2 separate regions of the Homo sapiens genome follow, and region 2 is linked to region 1. A link means that fine-mapping ties the variant in region 1 to the expression of a gene that starts in the linked region. Tissue or cell type: ovary. Region 1 holds a variant in brackets; the other region holds the start of a gene. All regions are shown on one strand. Distances are between the middles of the regions.

The links. PIP is the estimated chance that this variant, and not a neighbour inherited with it, causes the effect.
Region 2: CRELD1 starts here. The variant in region 1 is fine-mapped to the expression of CRELD1 in ovary (GTEx, PIP 0.96).

What each region holds. Positions count from the first base shown.
Region 1 is chr3:9,852,306-9,860,565 of GRCh38, forward strand. It overlaps the pseudogene MARK2P1. Among named protein-coding and RNA genes, the nearest start is that of RPUSD3, 12 kb to the left of the region's middle. RefSeq lists enhancers at 1,604-2,273, 7,022-7,562. The variant C/T (reference allele first, on the strand shown) is at 4,906.
Region 2 is chr3:9,929,520-9,937,519 of GRCh38, forward strand. CRELD1 (CRELD disulfide isomerase 1) reads left to right here and starts at 4,315. Exons shown (of 11, transcript NM_001077415.3): 1 at 4,315-4,401; 2 at 4,901-5,093; 3 at 5,316-5,398. The coding sequence starts at 4,920. It overlaps IL17RC (interleukin 17 receptor C), which reads left to right. Exons shown (of 19, transcript NM_153460.4): 13 at 333-378; 14 at 509-630; 15 at 881-940; 16 at 1,376-1,424; 17 at 3,089-3,184; 18 at 3,301-3,339; 19 at 3,434-4,102. The coding sequence ends at 4,074. RefSeq lists silencers at 3,287-3,346, 3,927-4,256 and an enhancer at 4,357-4,726.

The DNA of each region.
Region 1 (8,260 bases):
GTAGTTGATCTGCATCTATGTTAACTGGAGGATTAGCAGCCCTATTTTTTCGGACCTGTTCTTGTGCCCCATTAATCCACCAAATCTTAAATTGTAAAAATTGAGAGGGTGAGAGAGACGATTTTGCCAGAATCTCCCAATCATAAGGAATGAGTCTATGTCCGTGTGCAATGGAATCTAATAATGTCCTCATATAAGGGGAGTTGGGTCCATACTGTTTTATTCCCTCTTTCATGTCTTTTAGCATTTTTATAGAAAAAGACTTGTATCTGGCCTCAACTGTGGGAGGCTCTCCCTCTTGGGCTCCTTCTCCAGGTGGTATCAGTTCTAACATTAGTGGGAATGGCCACGCCTCAATATCTCCTTGCTTTCTTGACTTATCAATAATTTTATGTAATGCACTACCCTGTCTATTAGGTGGTGCTGTAGGATTAAGTCTCATAGTGGGCGGCTGAGGGTATGGCGCCCTGCCCTGTGGTGCTGGGAGCATTCCTGGATGTCCATACTGACTTTCTGGGGGTGGCCGATACTGAAATTCAGCCGGCAGCCAGTATTGATAAGCTACTGGTGGTTGGGTCTTATTTTCTCTAACCTGTGTTTGAGGTTGTAATGTTACGGGCATCTGACCTGCTGGAAGAGGACTTGTCCCTCGTGGTTTAGACTCTGATGGCCCCACTAATTCTGGACCTTTTTCTTCTAATTTTAACGTTTCAGGGTATATCACCTGCTGTAATTGATTATAGTCAACATTTTGCATTGACTGAGCCATTACCAGCTCTACTGCATATTCACAATGTAAACTTTCCATTTCTTTCCGGGATTTCCTCCCCGCCTCTTCTTTACAATCTATTACACAGCCTTCAGGGGCATCAGAAACTGAAACGCTATCTTCTTCTGTTTGAAATGGTTCTAAAGCTGCTTTAATAATGGCCCAATCATTCCATACTGTAAGTGGGATGATTTTACCCTCCCTACTTGCTTGTTTTAATTCTTTGCCAATTTTTTTCCAATCTTTTAGATCTAAAGTTCCCTATTCTGGAAACCATGGGCAAAATTGTTCTATTGTTCAAAATAGCTTGATCAGATTTTTTGTAGGTACTCTAACTCCCCCGCTTTTTAAAAGAATTTTAATAAAGCTGAGATAAGAGGCATATTTACTTTTAGTTTTACTTTTAGTTTGCCTCATTGTTACCCCGGCTTCTTCCAAGCGCACAAGCTTACCGCAAGGCTGACTGTAGACGTACTCGGGATCTCTTGTGGACTTGTCCTCAATGACCACACTCGAGCGTACCTTCACCCTAGAGAAAAGCACCCACGTTGGGCACCAGATGAAGGGGTGGGTTGCCCCTCCACACCTGTGGGTGTTTCTTGTTAGGTGGAATGAGAGACTTGGAAAAGAAAGAGACACAGAGACAAAGTATAGAGAAAGAAATAAGGAGGCCCAGGGGACCGGCGTTCAGCATACGGAGAATCCACCCCAGCCTCTGAGTTCCCTTAGTATTTATTGATCATTATTGGGTGTTTCTCGGAGAGGGGGATGTGGCAGGATCATCAGATAACAGTGGAGAGAAGGTCAGCAGATAAACACGTGAACAAAGGTCTCTGCATCATAGACAAGGTAAAGAATTAAGTGCTGTGCTTTAGATATGTATACACATAAACATCTCAATGCCTTAAAGAGCAGTATTGCTGCCCGCATGTCCCACCTCCAGCCCTAAGGCGGTTTTCCCCTATCTCAGTAGATGGAATCGGGTTTTACACCGAGACATTCCATTGCCCAGGGACAAGCAGGAGACAGATGCCTTCCTCTTGTCTCAACTGCAAAGAGGCATGCCTTCCTCTTTTACTAATCCTCCTCAGCACAGACCCTTTACGGGTGTCGGGCTGGGGGACGGTCAGGTCTTTCCCTTCCCACGAGGCCATATTTCAGACTATCACATGGAGAGAAACCTTGGACAATACCTGGCTTTCCTAGACAGAGGTCCCTGTGGCCTTCCGCAGTGTTTGTGTCCCCGGGTACTTGAGATTAGGGAGTGGTGATGACTCTTAACGAGCATGCTGCCTTCAAGCATCTGTTGAACAAAGCACACCCTGCACAGCCCTTAATCCATTTAACCCTGAGTTGACACAGCACGTGTCTCAGGGAGCACAGGGTTGGGGATAAGGTTACAGATTAAAATGGAGTCTCTTATGTCTACTTTCTATACAGACACATTAACAATCTGATCTCTCTTTCTTTTCCCCACAACCAAGGGCCCAGCTCCTAACATGCAGGTGTCACCAGAGAGAAATGCACCACTGTGCCCAGCACCATAGCTCTGGCTCAGAGAGTTTGCCTGAGAAAGCAGCAGACAGAAAACAAAAGGTGCGAGTTGCTCCCGAAGGAACTGACTTCATGTGCAACAGAGCTCGGAGAAGTCCAAGGCTAAGCACACTCTCCAGAACAGTGGAGGTTGTGCTGAAAGGCAACTGGGAGGCGACGGAGAGCCTGGGAGGTGCGGGCTACACTGGAGGCCAGCAAGTCTGCCAGAGAGAAACAGAAAAAAAGACAGGTGGGAAGAGCTCTCCTGGGGTCAGAACAAAGCTTAATATCTTCTTTGACAAAGAACGTAACATCAAAATAGCCAACTATGGGTTTAGTTCAACATTTGCAAAGAGAGACAACACTGAAAAGGGAACGTTTGATGGGACTCTCCCTTATGCAGGCCCAGAACTCTTCTTGGGCCATGGGTACCAATGCCCTGCCATCAACGTTTGGAGCCTTGGCATCATCGTATGCAAAATGGTGGCTGGGGCCCTGCCATTTTATGAGCAGAACTGTAAGGATATACTGAAAAAAAAAAAATTAAAATAGTATGCTACTTTTTTATTCATTTTATGGAAAAAAATATTTAAAAATTCTTCACACTCAACCCCAGGGAGCAGCTCCCACTGGACCAGCTGTTGAGGAACTCCTGGGTCAATAGTGACCAGAAGACATGATTCAAGCCATACAGAGAGCCACTCCTGGACTACCCAGGCCCCCCAACAACCCAGCTCATAGTGGCCATGGGATTCTAGGAAGAACATATCGAGGAAGTGATATTAAAAAAATATATGATCATCCCATGGCCACCTACCTAATCATGGAGTTCAGAAAAGTGCAGAGGAGAAAGGGCTCCAACATCGGAGCACAATCCCTCCCTCCCGGGGATCCCATCTGTCCTTCCCCATCTGCCACAGTTAAGTCAACCTTCCCTGTCCAACCCAGAAGAGGACTCAAAACCAGCCGACCTTTCCCACTTTCTAATTCACAGAAGCATGAACACCATCCTGGGAGTTAGGGCAGAACCCTACTTGGCCTGGAGATGAAGCCAGCCATTCCCAGCAAAGCCCCCCAGCATAAGTCTGTGGCTTCACCCTCCCCAGAGCACCAGCAGCCATGGGGAAAACCTGAAGGATCCTTGTCTCTGGGAACCCACTGGGAAGTCGGCTCGCTCCATGTGGAAGACCCAGAAGAGGTGGCTTGGTCTGAGGGAACCCCCGGGAAGCTGGATGGTATAACCTCAATCTCTGTGACTAAAAGGAGCCATGGCTACCATGGGCAAAAGATGTTTCAGTTTCATGCTGCAATTATGTTGTTTCTGACTAGCACAAAAAAGTCAAAGGGAGAAATAAGGCAGCACCAGTGAACCCAATGGACAGCTGGGCCCAGACAAAAACCAAGTGGGTGGGGCAGTCAAGCTACACTTCCTGTGTTTTATTACATTTATTATGTTCTTCTTAATATTATTTTAATTGGCAAATCATGCTTGTATTCATTTATAAGATACAGTGCGGGGATTAGATAGATGTGTGCACCATGGAATGACAAAATCACACTACATAGTATCTGCATCACCTCAGAAAGACACATTCCACGTGATGTCCCTGAAGTGTCCATCTAAAAAAGTTGACCTCATAGAAATAGCGAGTGGGTCGATGGTGAACGATGGCTGGGAGTGGTGTGTGGAGGGGTGGCAGAGGGAAGAAATGGGGGCTTGTCGGTCAAAAAACCACAGTCTCAGTTGGAAAGGAGGAAGAGGTTTTGACATCTAGTGCACAGCAGGGTGACCAGAGTCAATGAGAATGTGTTGCATATGGCAAAACACCTGAGAGGGTCCATGTCGAATCCTGGCATTCAGAATGGAGAAAATAAAGGCCCTGAGGTTCAAGAACATTAAAAACCTTGTGACAGGTTGACCACGTGTAGACTTCAACGGCTGTGGGTGAGAACTGGGCAAGATGCCGATGCTGCCATTTGCCCAGCACATCTGGCCCAGAGGCATTCAGCAGAGGACGCAGATGTCCAAGCTGCTACCAGGGTCAGTGGAACAGGATTCAAAAGTCAAGAGGGCATCTGGCAACCCTGTGGCCTCCAAAGGCCTATCAAAAGCTATAGGTGAGCTGAAGGGCAGCCTAGAGACTCCTGGAGACCAGAGGGCCCCTCCACCCCACCTGGCCCGGAGCACCATCTCTTCCTCCTGTCTGTCCCCTGCTTCCTCTGTCCTGCCATCTCCCCCTTCCTCCACCCTCAGCTCCCTGCAGTCCTCTCTCCACCTTTCCAAGGTAGACGCAGCTTGCTGCTCTGCTGTCCTGAGTCCCCACTAAGACTGTGGTTTCTGGTCCCTGCTGACCTCTGGGACTTGATTTCCCTGGCCTTTTGCCCCACCTCCTTTCTGTTTGTCCCAGCCCCACCCCCAACTCCCTCTCCCCCAGCTCCTCCTCTGCTATTCCTAATCCCCTCATCCTGATTGCTTTTTTGCTACATTTTCTCTAGCTAAATCATCTTTTATTTACTTGCTAATAATCTATCCATGGGTCCCCTGGAAGTCTGTCTTGTGCTACATACAATGATGAAAATCTAGGGCCCGGTGTGGTGGCTCA[C/T]GCCTGTAATCCCAGCACTTTGGGAGGCCAAGGCGGGCGGATCACGAGGTCAGGAGATTGAGACCATCCTGGCTAACACAGTGAAACCCCGTCTCTACTAAAAATACAAAAAATTAGCCGGGCGTGGTGGCGGGCGCCTGTAGTCCCAGCTACTCAGGAGGCTGAGGCAGGAGAATGGCATGAACCCAGGAGGTGGAGCTTGCAGTGAGTGGAGATCCTGCCACTGTACTCCAGCCTGGGCGACAGAGCGAAACTCCGTCTAAAAAAAAAAAAAAGAAAAGAAAAGAAAAGAAAATCTAGGCCGGGTGCTGTGGCTCACGCCTGTAATCCCAGCACTTTGGGAGGCCGAGGCAGGCAGATCACAAGGTCAGGGATTTGAGATCAGTCCGACCAACATGATGAAACCTCGTCTCTACTAAAAATACAAAAATTAGCCGGGTTTGATGGCGCATGCCTGTAATCCCAGCTATTCAGGAGGCTGAGGCAGGAGAATCGTGTAGACCTGGGAGGCGGATGTTGCAGTGAGCTGAGATTGTGCCACTGCACTCCAGCCTGGGCAAAAGAGCTAGACTCCATCTCAAAAAAAAAAAAAGGAAAGAAAATCTGGAAACTGTAATTTAACTCCTGGCCCTAGACAGGACTCAAGTTTTGTGAAAGGGAGGAAGAAAAAAAAAGCAAACCCCACCAAACCAACACCTAGTCTAAAGCCTGATATAAATGCCATTCAAAACATGTTTCCTCCTTTATTCTTTTTTTTTTTTTTTTTTTGAGACAGAGTCTCGCTCTGTCACCCAGGCTGGGGTGTAGTGGCGCAACCTCAGCTCACTGCAACCTCTGCCTCCTGGGTTCAAGCCATTCTCCTCCCTCAGCCTCCCAGTCGCTGGGATTACAGGCACCTACCATCATGCCTGGCTACTTTTGTTTTTTTGAATTTTTCGTAGAGATGGGGTTTCACCATGTTGGCCAGGCTGATCTCAAACTTCCATCCTCAAGAGATCTGCCTGCATCAGCCTCCCAAAGTGCTGGGATTACAGGCGTGAGCCACTGCGCCTGGCCTCCTTCCTTTATTCTTCAATAACCAGAAAATTCTTCCTGAAAAAGGTGGCCCCTGAGACCATTTGGAAGCATCACAGGGGGGAGGGGCAAGGGTCCTGCGAGCTGGTCTTGCCATCCCTTGTCCCCCAGTTTACATGAAGCCGAGTTTACATGAAGCCAAGCTCCAGAGAAGAGGCAGGGCCTGTGGGGCATTTGGATTACACTCCAAGTCTAATTCCCAGTCCAGCAATCCTGCCCCCAGAGGCTTCCTTCATCTTTCCACTTAGCCAAGGAAGGAGCAGGTCAGCTCATGCCCCCTGCCTGGATGCAGACAACAACCATCAGAAGGCCATCCGTGTAGCCGGGGCCCCAGAACAATGTCTGGAAATGGCTCAAGGAGCTGAAGCCCTTTAGCCTCAAGAAGAGCATGAGGGACCCAGCACCCTTCTGAAACCTAAACTACATTCTGGCCTGAGCCATTTTGCACTGTCTGTGCCCTAGAAAGCTGTGAAGGCCTGTAAGTGGGTCTTCCTGTTTCCCTGTCTTCTGAGGCCCAGGCCTTTCTTAGAGCTTCCGTGGGTCCCACCCTTACACGCATCACACCGTGTCTGGGCTCTGCCTGCCTGGCTTACACTCCCTACCCCCAACCACTGCCCTATTTCCACCCCCGGGACATCCTGCTGGGCACTGCTGTTCCCTCTCTTAGAAGATTTTCACAGGTCCTGCCCTTCCCTTTTGCCAATTGATATCATTTGGCTGTGTCCCCACCCAAATCTCAACTTGGATTGTATCTCCCAGAATTCCCATGTGTTGTGGGAGGGACTCAGGAGGAGGTAATTGAATCATGGGGGCCATGATTTCCCAAGCTATTCTCATGATAGTGAATAAGTCTCATGAGATGTGATGGGTTTATCAGGGGTTTCCGCTTTTGCTTCTTTCTCATTTTCTCCTGCTGCCACCACGTAAGAAGTACTTTTTGCCTCCTGCCATGATTCTGAGGCCTCCCCAGACATGTGGAATTGTAAGTCCAATTAAACCTCTTTTCCTTCCCAGTCTCAGGTATATTTTTATCAGCTGAATGAAACAGACTAATACACCAATCAAGTGAATGTCACCTCCTCAGAGAAACCCTCCCTGAGCACCCCATCTGCAGTAGGGTCACCCCATCTTCCACCTTCACTTTTCCTGGTGTTTCCTTCTTAGCCCCTATTTCCATGGGGAGTCTTTGCTCTGACAGACTAGTCTCCCTCACCCACCCGGGGCCAGCCTGTCTGTCTTCTCTGTCCCTGTACATGGGAGATGATCAATGTTCATTTGTTGGCATCAGTAAAACAGGAAGGCCCCTGAGGTGCAAGGATTGGAAGCCCTTCCCCCCAGGTGAGGAAAGAGCCTTGAGGCAGGGTAGAGGACCCGAGTTAGTGCCCTCTCCCTACCCCGAGGGTCAGCCCTGGGCAGGACGGGCCACGGCCCCTTGGGGCACCTGTTGCCTGTGCCCTTGATGGGTGGCCTGCAGGGGACGTGGCCGCACTTGGTCAGTGGTGGTTCTGGGTCAGCCACATTCAGGTGGGCAGCATTTTAGGAAGGACAAACTCCAAAACCCAGGCTCCAAAGGATCCACGGGAAGGTCGAGAGGCTCAGGGGAGTGTCCTGGTGGCTGGGCCAGCGCTTTGAGGCCCCTGGGGAACCAGCAGAGAGGGCCTGCGTGAGGCATCTGGAGGCTCTGAGCACCTCTGGAATCCCAGCGACCTGCAGAGGTTGCCCGTCTCTGTGGGGGCAGCAGCGCCTGAAGGGAGGTGGCCATAGCAGCCCACAGGGGCCCAGGGCTGACCAGCTCTGCCTTGGGTGCCAAGGCTGGGCAGGGCCTGTGCCCTTGGGAGTCCTGTTTCAGACCCACCTCAACCACATGGCCCTGCCCTCATCTTATTTGCCTGGACAGCAAGGCCTGCAGAAACTGATTTGCTCATCCAATTTGGGGAACCTGAGCTCCCTGCTGGGCAAGCCTGATGGTTTCACAGCTGCCCATGATGGTTTCCTCGGCAACTTCAAATCAGACTCTGCTCCTTAGTTGCCAGCACCTTTACTAAAGAAGGTGGGGGCGGTGGGCAGAAAGCATGGGGGTGTCGTGTCATGGTGACAGGTGTAAGGAGAAGGCAAAGAGTTTTCCACTTCCATTGATGGTAGCAGTGGCGGCCACCTGACCCAGGGCACCATCTCTTCCTCCTGTTTGTCCCCTGCTTCCTCTGCCCTGCCACCTCCCCCTTCCTCCCCAATGAGGTCACTGCAGTTCTCTCTCCACCTTTCCAAGATAGATGCAGGTTGC
Region 2 (8,000 bases), 77 kb after region 1:
ATAAGGTGGGACTGGGGTTGCAATTTTTAGCAGGGTGGTCATGTGAGAAAGGAATCTCTTTGAGAAGGTTAGATGAGAGGGGAACCATGCTCCGTAAGACATAAAAACAGCTTTAGGGTCAGAAGACGCTTTATACAGATGATCTCACAAGGCTGGGGCAGAGAAAGATGTAGTGATTCCTAATCACCCAGCCTTGAATCCACATCTGCCTCAGGTCAGATTGAGTGCAGATTCCCAACCCAACAGGCCTTCTGTTGCCTGCCCCATTCTGGTCTTTCTGCCTTTGGCTTTTGCTTTTCTTAGTGGCCCTAACCATGGTCTCTTCCCAGCAGGTGAACAGCTCGGAGAAGCTGCAGCTGCAGGAGTGCTTGTGGGCTGGTGAGTTGGGCCTGGGGGCAGCTGGGGCAGGGCCACCTCCTAGGGGTGAAGGTCAGGGCATGGGAGGCAGGCAAGTGGCCAATCCCAGCAAGGATGGGTCTTGGTCAGAGTGGCCTCTCACCCCTTCCAGACTCCCTGGGGCCTCTCAAAGACGATGTGCTACTGTTGGAGACACGAGGCCCCCAGGACAACAGATCCCTCTGTGCCTTGGAACCCAGTGGCTGTACTTCACTACCCAGCAAAGCCTCCACGGTTAGGACTGGGCGACCCTCCTCCACAGATCTCTCCAAATGCATCTCACATCTGGCCTCAAATTTTCACTCCATCCACCCTGTGCCGGTCTCTGGGAACATGGGGGGTGACTCAGACCAGGGCCATATTCAGCGGCATCACCAAAGTCTCCCAGTCCCCTCTACCTCATTCTACCCAGCTGTAGCCTGGTAGGTGCTGCCCTAAGGGTGCTACCTCCAGGTAACAGTGCCCCCATCCTTTGGCTTGGCAGAGGGCAGCTCGCCTTGGAGAGTACTTACTACAAGACCTGCAGTCAGGCCAGTGTCTGCAGGTGAGCTGGTGGAAGAAGGGCCCCACCTCAATGCCTAGGGGCAACAGGCCTAAAACTAGCACTCACCTACTGTCTATTTAGGCTTATTTTATGTTCAGCCCTGGGAAAGTTAAGAGTAGAAGAAGCACAGTTCCTATCCCCAAGGAGCACACTGTTGGCTAGACACCCATAAACAGATAACCACACCTACAGGTGCTAAGTTTTGGGTTCCAGGGAGAGCTTCCGGGAAGAATTTCTTCCTATAAGCCAGATTTGGTATGGAAGAAGTCATACCCTAGTCAGTGGGCACAGCACAAAGGCAGAGCAGCTGCAGGAACCTTAGCCGGGAGATATGCATAGTTGATGCTGGGAATTTGGAGATCAGGCCACCAGAGCTTGGTGAATATTGGAACACCTGGCTGGTGCCCTGGATTTGGTTCTGTTTGTATCTTACAGCTATGGGACGATGACTTGGGAGCGCTATGGGCCTGCCCCATGGACAAATGTGAGTATTGTAAGAACTGCCTTTCCTTTCTGTACCAGGAGTGGGGATCTTGACAGGGACCACTCTTGGGCACAGCACATGCAATGGCCTTGTCCTTCCCTGAGATCAGATAAACAGAGGGTCATTCCTTCATTCACTCAAAAAATGATGAGAGCTTGCAGGGATCGCAGGAACACCAAAAATATAAATCCTTGCCCCCGCCCCACCCCTAGAAGACTAGCAAGACATGAGCCAGTCACTTACATTTAAAGTGGGAGCTACTGAAGCACCACCAAGTGTTCAGTGCTGTAAATGCATACAATGTGGACCTGACCTGGGTGGGGTGAGGGGTGAGGGGCTCAGGGGGAAGGTTCCAGCAAAACTCTGAAGACTGAGCTAGGGGAAGGGGGTAGAGATACAGGGTCTTGGACAGGCAGGTTTCTGTCATGAGATAAAGATGCAGGAGACATGTAGGGGATTTGGATCTTATGTTGAGAGCAGCAGGAGCTACGATCAAATTTTTATATATTTCACACACACACACACACATATATATATATATATATATATATATATATATACTTATTTTTTTATTTATTTTTGAGGCAGAGTCTCACTCTGTTGCCCAGGCTGGAGTGCAATGGCGCGATCTCGGCTAACTGCAACCTCTGCCTCCCGGGTTCAAGCAATTCTCTACCTCAGCCTCCCGGGTAGCTGGGATTAATAGGCGCCTGCCACCATGCCCTGCTAATTTTTGTATTTTTAGTAGAGATGGGGTTTCACCATCTTGGCCAGGCTGGTCTTGAACTCCTGACCTCGTGATCCGCCCGCGTCGGCCTCCCAAAGTGCTGGGATTATAGTCGTGAGTCACCGCACCTGGCCCAAATTTATATTTTTAAAAGATCTCTGAGGCTGTCATGAATCAATTCAAGGCAAATCAATTGGAGGTAAAAAAAAAAAAAAAAAGACAGGGCAGGGACACCAGGTAGTTGCAGACACCCAGGACAGCAAGATCAAGGGCCCAGCAACCCTAGCTTAGGGGAGAAAAACAGCTGACATTTTAGCACTTAAGATGCTCGGCATTGTGTTAAGTATGTATTAACACATTGTGTTAAGCTTTATATGTATTAATATATTTAGTCCTCACACCAACCCTATGACACAGGTACAACTTTACAGAGGAGAAAACTGAGGCAGAGGGTGACATTACTTATTCAAAGACCCCTAAACAGATGGAGCTATATTCATCCACTGGCTCTGACACTGTGCTGTGGACTCTGGGCAAATCATTTCTTCGTTTTTTGTTTTGTTTTGTTTTGTTTTGAGAGGAGTCTCACCCTGTCGCCCAGGCTGGAGTGCAATGGCGCGATCTCGGCTCACTGCAACCTCTGCCTCCCGAGTTCAAGCGATTCTCTTGCCTCAGCCTCCCGAGTAGCTGGGATTACAGGCGTGTGCCACCACGCCCGGCTAATTTTTTGTATTTTTAGTAGAGACGGGGTTTCACCGTGTTAGCCAGGATGGTCTTGATGTCCTGACCTCGTGATCTGCCCGCCTCGGCCTCCCGAAGTGCTGGGATTATATAAAGGCATGAGCCACCGCACCCGGCCCAATTCATTTCTGTTAAGTCTCAGTTTTTCTTCTCTGTGGAGGGTAAGTTTCTAACTCTTCTTCTCTGGGTCTCCCAGACATCCACAAGCGCTGGGCCCTCGTGTGGCTGGCCTGCCTACTCTTTGCCGCTGCGCTTTCCCTCATCCTCCTTCTCAAAAAGGATCACGCGAAAGGTGAGCGCTTCCCGGCTCCCCATTCCCCTGGGGGAGGACCAGAGTGGCTGTGGGAGTTCTCCGAGGGAAAGCGGCGGCCGAGCTCACTGGCTGCCTCCGCCCCTCTCCCCTAACAGGGTGGCTGAGGCTCTTGAAACAGGACGTCCGCTCGGGGGGTGAGTGGGAGCAAGCGCTGGGCGGAGGGCCGCCCCCGGGGAGCCAGGCCTGTGCCAGCTCACCTCTTCCCTCCCCATCTGTTTTCTCCGGCAGCGGCCGCCAGGGGCCGCGCGGCTCTGCTCCTCTACTCAGCCGATGACTCGGGTTTCGAGCGCCTGGTGGGCGCCCTGGCGTCGGCCCTGTGCCAGCTGCCGCTGCGCGTGGCCGTAGACCTGTGGAGCCGTCGTGAACTGAGCGCGCAGGGGCCCGTGGCTTGGTTTCACGCGCAGCGGCGCCAGACCCTGCAGGAGGGCGGCGTGGTGGTCTTGCTCTTCTCTCCCGGTGCGGTGGCGCTGTGCAGCGAGTGGCTACAGGATGGGGTGTCCGGGCCCGGGGCGCACGGCCCGCACGACGCCTTCCGCGCCTCGCTCAGCTGCGTGCTGCCCGACTTCTTGCAGGGCCGGGCGCCCGGCAGCTACGTGGGGGCCTGCTTCGACAGGCTGCTCCACCCGGACGCCGTACCCGCCCTTTTCCGCACCGTGCCCGTCTTCACACTGCCCTCCCAACTGCCAGACTTCCTGGGGGCCCTGCAGCAGCCTCGCGCCCCGCGTTCCGGGCGGCTCCAAGAGAGAGCGGAGCAAGTGTCCCGGGCCCTTCAGCCAGCCCTGGATAGCTACTTCCATCCCCCGGGGACTCCCGCGCCGGGACGCGGGGTGGGACCAGGCGCGGGACCTGGGGCGGGGGACGGGACTTAAATAAAGGCAGACGCTGTTTTTCTACCCATGTGGCCCACACGCGTCTCCGTTTCAGTGGCGGGGCTGGCAAACGTCATTCCCTAGCCCCGCGGCCCTTTAAAGCCCGGACAGGTGCAGCTCGGTGCCGCCTCTGGTTGGCTGGCGTGGGGTGACGTAATGGCACATGGCCCGTCGCCATTGGCTGGGCGGCAAGCTCCGCCCCCTGGACTGCGGCGCGGGTGGGGGTTGTGCGTTTTACGCAGGCTGTGGCAGCGACGCGGTGAGGAGACGGCCCACGGCGCCCGCGGGCTGGGGCGGTCGCTTCTTCCTTCTCCGTGGCCTACGAGGGTCTGGATCCTTCTCTGCCGGCTCGTGGGCCGTGCCTTTGCCCTTCTGCGAGGCCCTGAATCTGATCCCTTCCCTTCATATCCGGATCCGGGCTCCTCCCTCCAAGCCCGGGGTTCCGGACACCTCCCCCAAGACAACCCCTCTGGCCTCCTCTCCTTCAGTACTTGGAATCTGATCTCTTCTCCCTAATTCTGCGGATCCGGCCCCTAATATTCTTTATCAGACCCTCAGACAAGAGGCTGACTTCTGCCCCCTTGTCAAGGAGCGAGGCCACTTTCCTCTCCACCCCATGCTAGCGAGGATAACTTATTTCTCTTCTGGAATTGCATCTTATGCGCCTTTCCCCACCCATCCCCACAGCCCCTGCAATACCCAGTTTGGCCTCTTTTGCTTGTAATAACGCAGATCCCAGCGCCACGGCACCTTAGAACAGACCTTTTTCTTTCTCGCGTGGGGCCTGACTCCTTCAGTGAAGCCTCTCCACGCCCTCTATCTGCAGGTCCCCAGCCTGGGTAAAGATGGCCCCATGGCCCCCGAAGGGCCTAGTCCCAGCTATGCTCTGGGGCCTCAGCCTCTTCCTCAACCTCCCAGGACCTATCTGGCTCCAGCCCTCTCCACCTCCCCAGTCTTCTCCCCCGCCTCAGCCCCATCCGTGTCATACCTGCCGGGGACTGGTTGACAGCTTTAACAAGGTGGGTGCACCGGCAGCCTCGTTAGAGGGGAACACAGCGATTTAGAGTGGGGAACTCTGGGATGCAAATCTGCGTGGATTTAAGTTTCATCTTGGTCTCTTACTAGTTGTATGGCCCTAGGCAGGTTGCCTTTCTGTGCCTCAGTTTCCTAGTCAGTAGAACAGTGAAGTGCTAGCATGTGCCAGGCACTGTACTTAGCTATTACTAATTTTCTGTTTCCAGGGCCTGGAGAGAACCATCCGGGACAACTTTGGAGGTGGAAACACTGCCTGGGAGGAAGAGAATTTGTCCAAATACAAAGACAGGTAAGGGGCTGCTGGGGGAAGGGGTGTATATTCCCCTCCCCGCCAAATCTCTGCTCTGCTGGTGTAGGGCTAGGAACTCTTGGGGAGCACTTATTCATTCAACAAATAGCACTGAACATCTATAGTATAGCAGTAAACAAGGCAAGCAAAATGCCCCCTTCCTGGAGCTCACATTCTAGTAGAGAAGACAAGCAGTGAATGAGTAAGTGAATAATATTATGTCAGATGAAGAACAAACAGTGAAGCACGGTAGACTGCAGGACGGTGGGAGGCAAGGTGTTCAAGGTTTGGCATTTGAACAGAGAGACAGGAAGTGAAGAAGCGAGCTATGTGACAGGGAGGGAATTGGGCAGAGGATGGGACTGAGCTTGGTGTATTTGAGAAGTGGCTGGAGTGGAGTGAGCCAAGGGGAGAGTGCTAGAAGGTGAAGGCAAAGGCTTAAGCCTCGAGGGCTACAGAAAAGAGTTTAGATTTTTTTTGGAGTGTAATGGGAAGCTCTTGGAAGGCTATGAGCAGAAAAAGTGATACTGTCTTCTCTACACCTTTAAAGATTACTCACACTGCTATGTAGCAAACGGATTGTAAGGGGCAAGGGCGGAGGAAGCAGGGAGACCAGTTTGGGAGGCAAGTGCATCATCTAGGTACAAAGGCAACACAAGCTAGTGTGGTATCTAGTGGAGGACATGATGAAGAGGTCACAGTCTGGGTATATTTTGCAGAGAGAACAATAGGACCTGGTGATAGATTCATTATGGGTATAGAGAAACAGTAGAATAAAAGATGCTTACTAGATTTTGGGCCTGAGCAACTGGGTGAGTAGTGCAGCTGTTTTCTAAGATGGTGAGATGCGAAACCGAGAAGGTTTAGGGGAGGGGTGGGATGTGGTGTTCTTTGAACGTATTGGGCTGAAATGTCCATTAGACATCCAGGTAGACTCCATACAAATCTGGAATTCAGAAAAGAGTAGGAATTGGAAACAGGAATTTGAGAGTTGTCATTATATAGTCAGTATGTAAAGAAAGCCATGGGAAGGATACAGAAAGCCATTATATAGTCAATATATGTAATACAGAAAGCCATTTATATAGTCAGTATGTAAAGAAAGGCATGGGAAGGATACAGAAAGGCGAGCCCTGAGCCCTCCAGCTTTTCAAAGTCAGATGGAAGAGGAGTCAGCAAAGGCTCAGAGTTAGACCTGGTTGTCGGTTCTTAACCTCTCAGAGCCACAGTTTCTTCACCTGTAAAATGGGGATATTAATACCTGGTTTGCCTATTTCATAGAAGTGTGGAAAAGGCTTAACTGGGATGCCCACTAGAAATAAAGGTTTTGTTATTATGTAACATTGGTCATTTTCTCTTTTCCTTCGCCGGGCCTGAGTTTCCTCATTCAGGAATGAGGGGATTGGCTAAGACAACCCCAGAGGCACTTCCAGCTTTGTAATGGCTCCTGCGTTGCTTGCTTTTTTAAATCACCTCCTATATGCCAGGCACTGTGCCAGACCCTTTAAATACAGGATATAAGACATCAAATATTTATATATGTGTGTATATATATGTGTGTGTGTATATATATATGTGTGTGTATATATATGTGCATATATGTCTGCGTATATATATGTGCGTATATATATGCGTATATATATATATATATGTATATATTTGTGGTAAAATACACATAAAAAATTTCCCATTAAAGACATTTAATAATATTTACAATGTTGTGTAACCATCACCACTATGTAGTTCCAGAACATTTTCATTACCCCCCCAAAAAATCCTATACCTATTACACAGCCACTCCCTATTCTCCCCTTCCCTCGGCTCTTGGCAATCACTAATTTGTGTTAGTCAAGCAGAAATTATGGATTTGCTGATTTCATTGGAATCATAAAATATGTGGCCTTTTGTGTCTGGCTAGTTTCACTTAGCATAATGTTTTCAAGGTTCACCCATACCGTAGCATATATCAATACTTATTCCTTTTTATGGCTGAATAATATTCTCATTTGGCTGTACCACATTTTGTTTAACCATGCATCAGTTGATGGACATCTGCATTGTTTCTACCTTTTGGCTGTTGTGAATAGTGCTGCTATGAACATTGTCTACAAGTTTTCGTTTGAACACCTGTTTTCCATTCTTTTGGGTCTATATCCAGTAGTGGAATTGGCAGGTCCTATGGCAATTCCATGTTTTACTTATTGAGGAACTGCTTTTCCACAGTGGTGATGCCATTTTGTATTCCCACCTGCAGTGTGGGAGGATTCTAATTTCTCCACATCCCTGCCAACACTTGTTATAGGATGTATTTTTAGCCATATCTACCCAGCAAGGGTATTATATTCCATTGCTCAGATGCAGGAACTGATGTATGTTACAACAAACCTGCAGGGAAGGTATTGTCATCCCCATTTTACAGATGACAAAACAAAGAGGTTCAGAGAGGTTAAGTGACTTGCCCACTAGATCTACCACTAGATTTGAACCCAGGTCTCTCTGCTTCCCAGAACCATGACCCCTTCCATTATACCTCATGGCCTCTCCTTTGATATTTTCACCGCACGAGGAAGGGTGGAGAGAGACTTGAGGAGGGTGGTGGGTG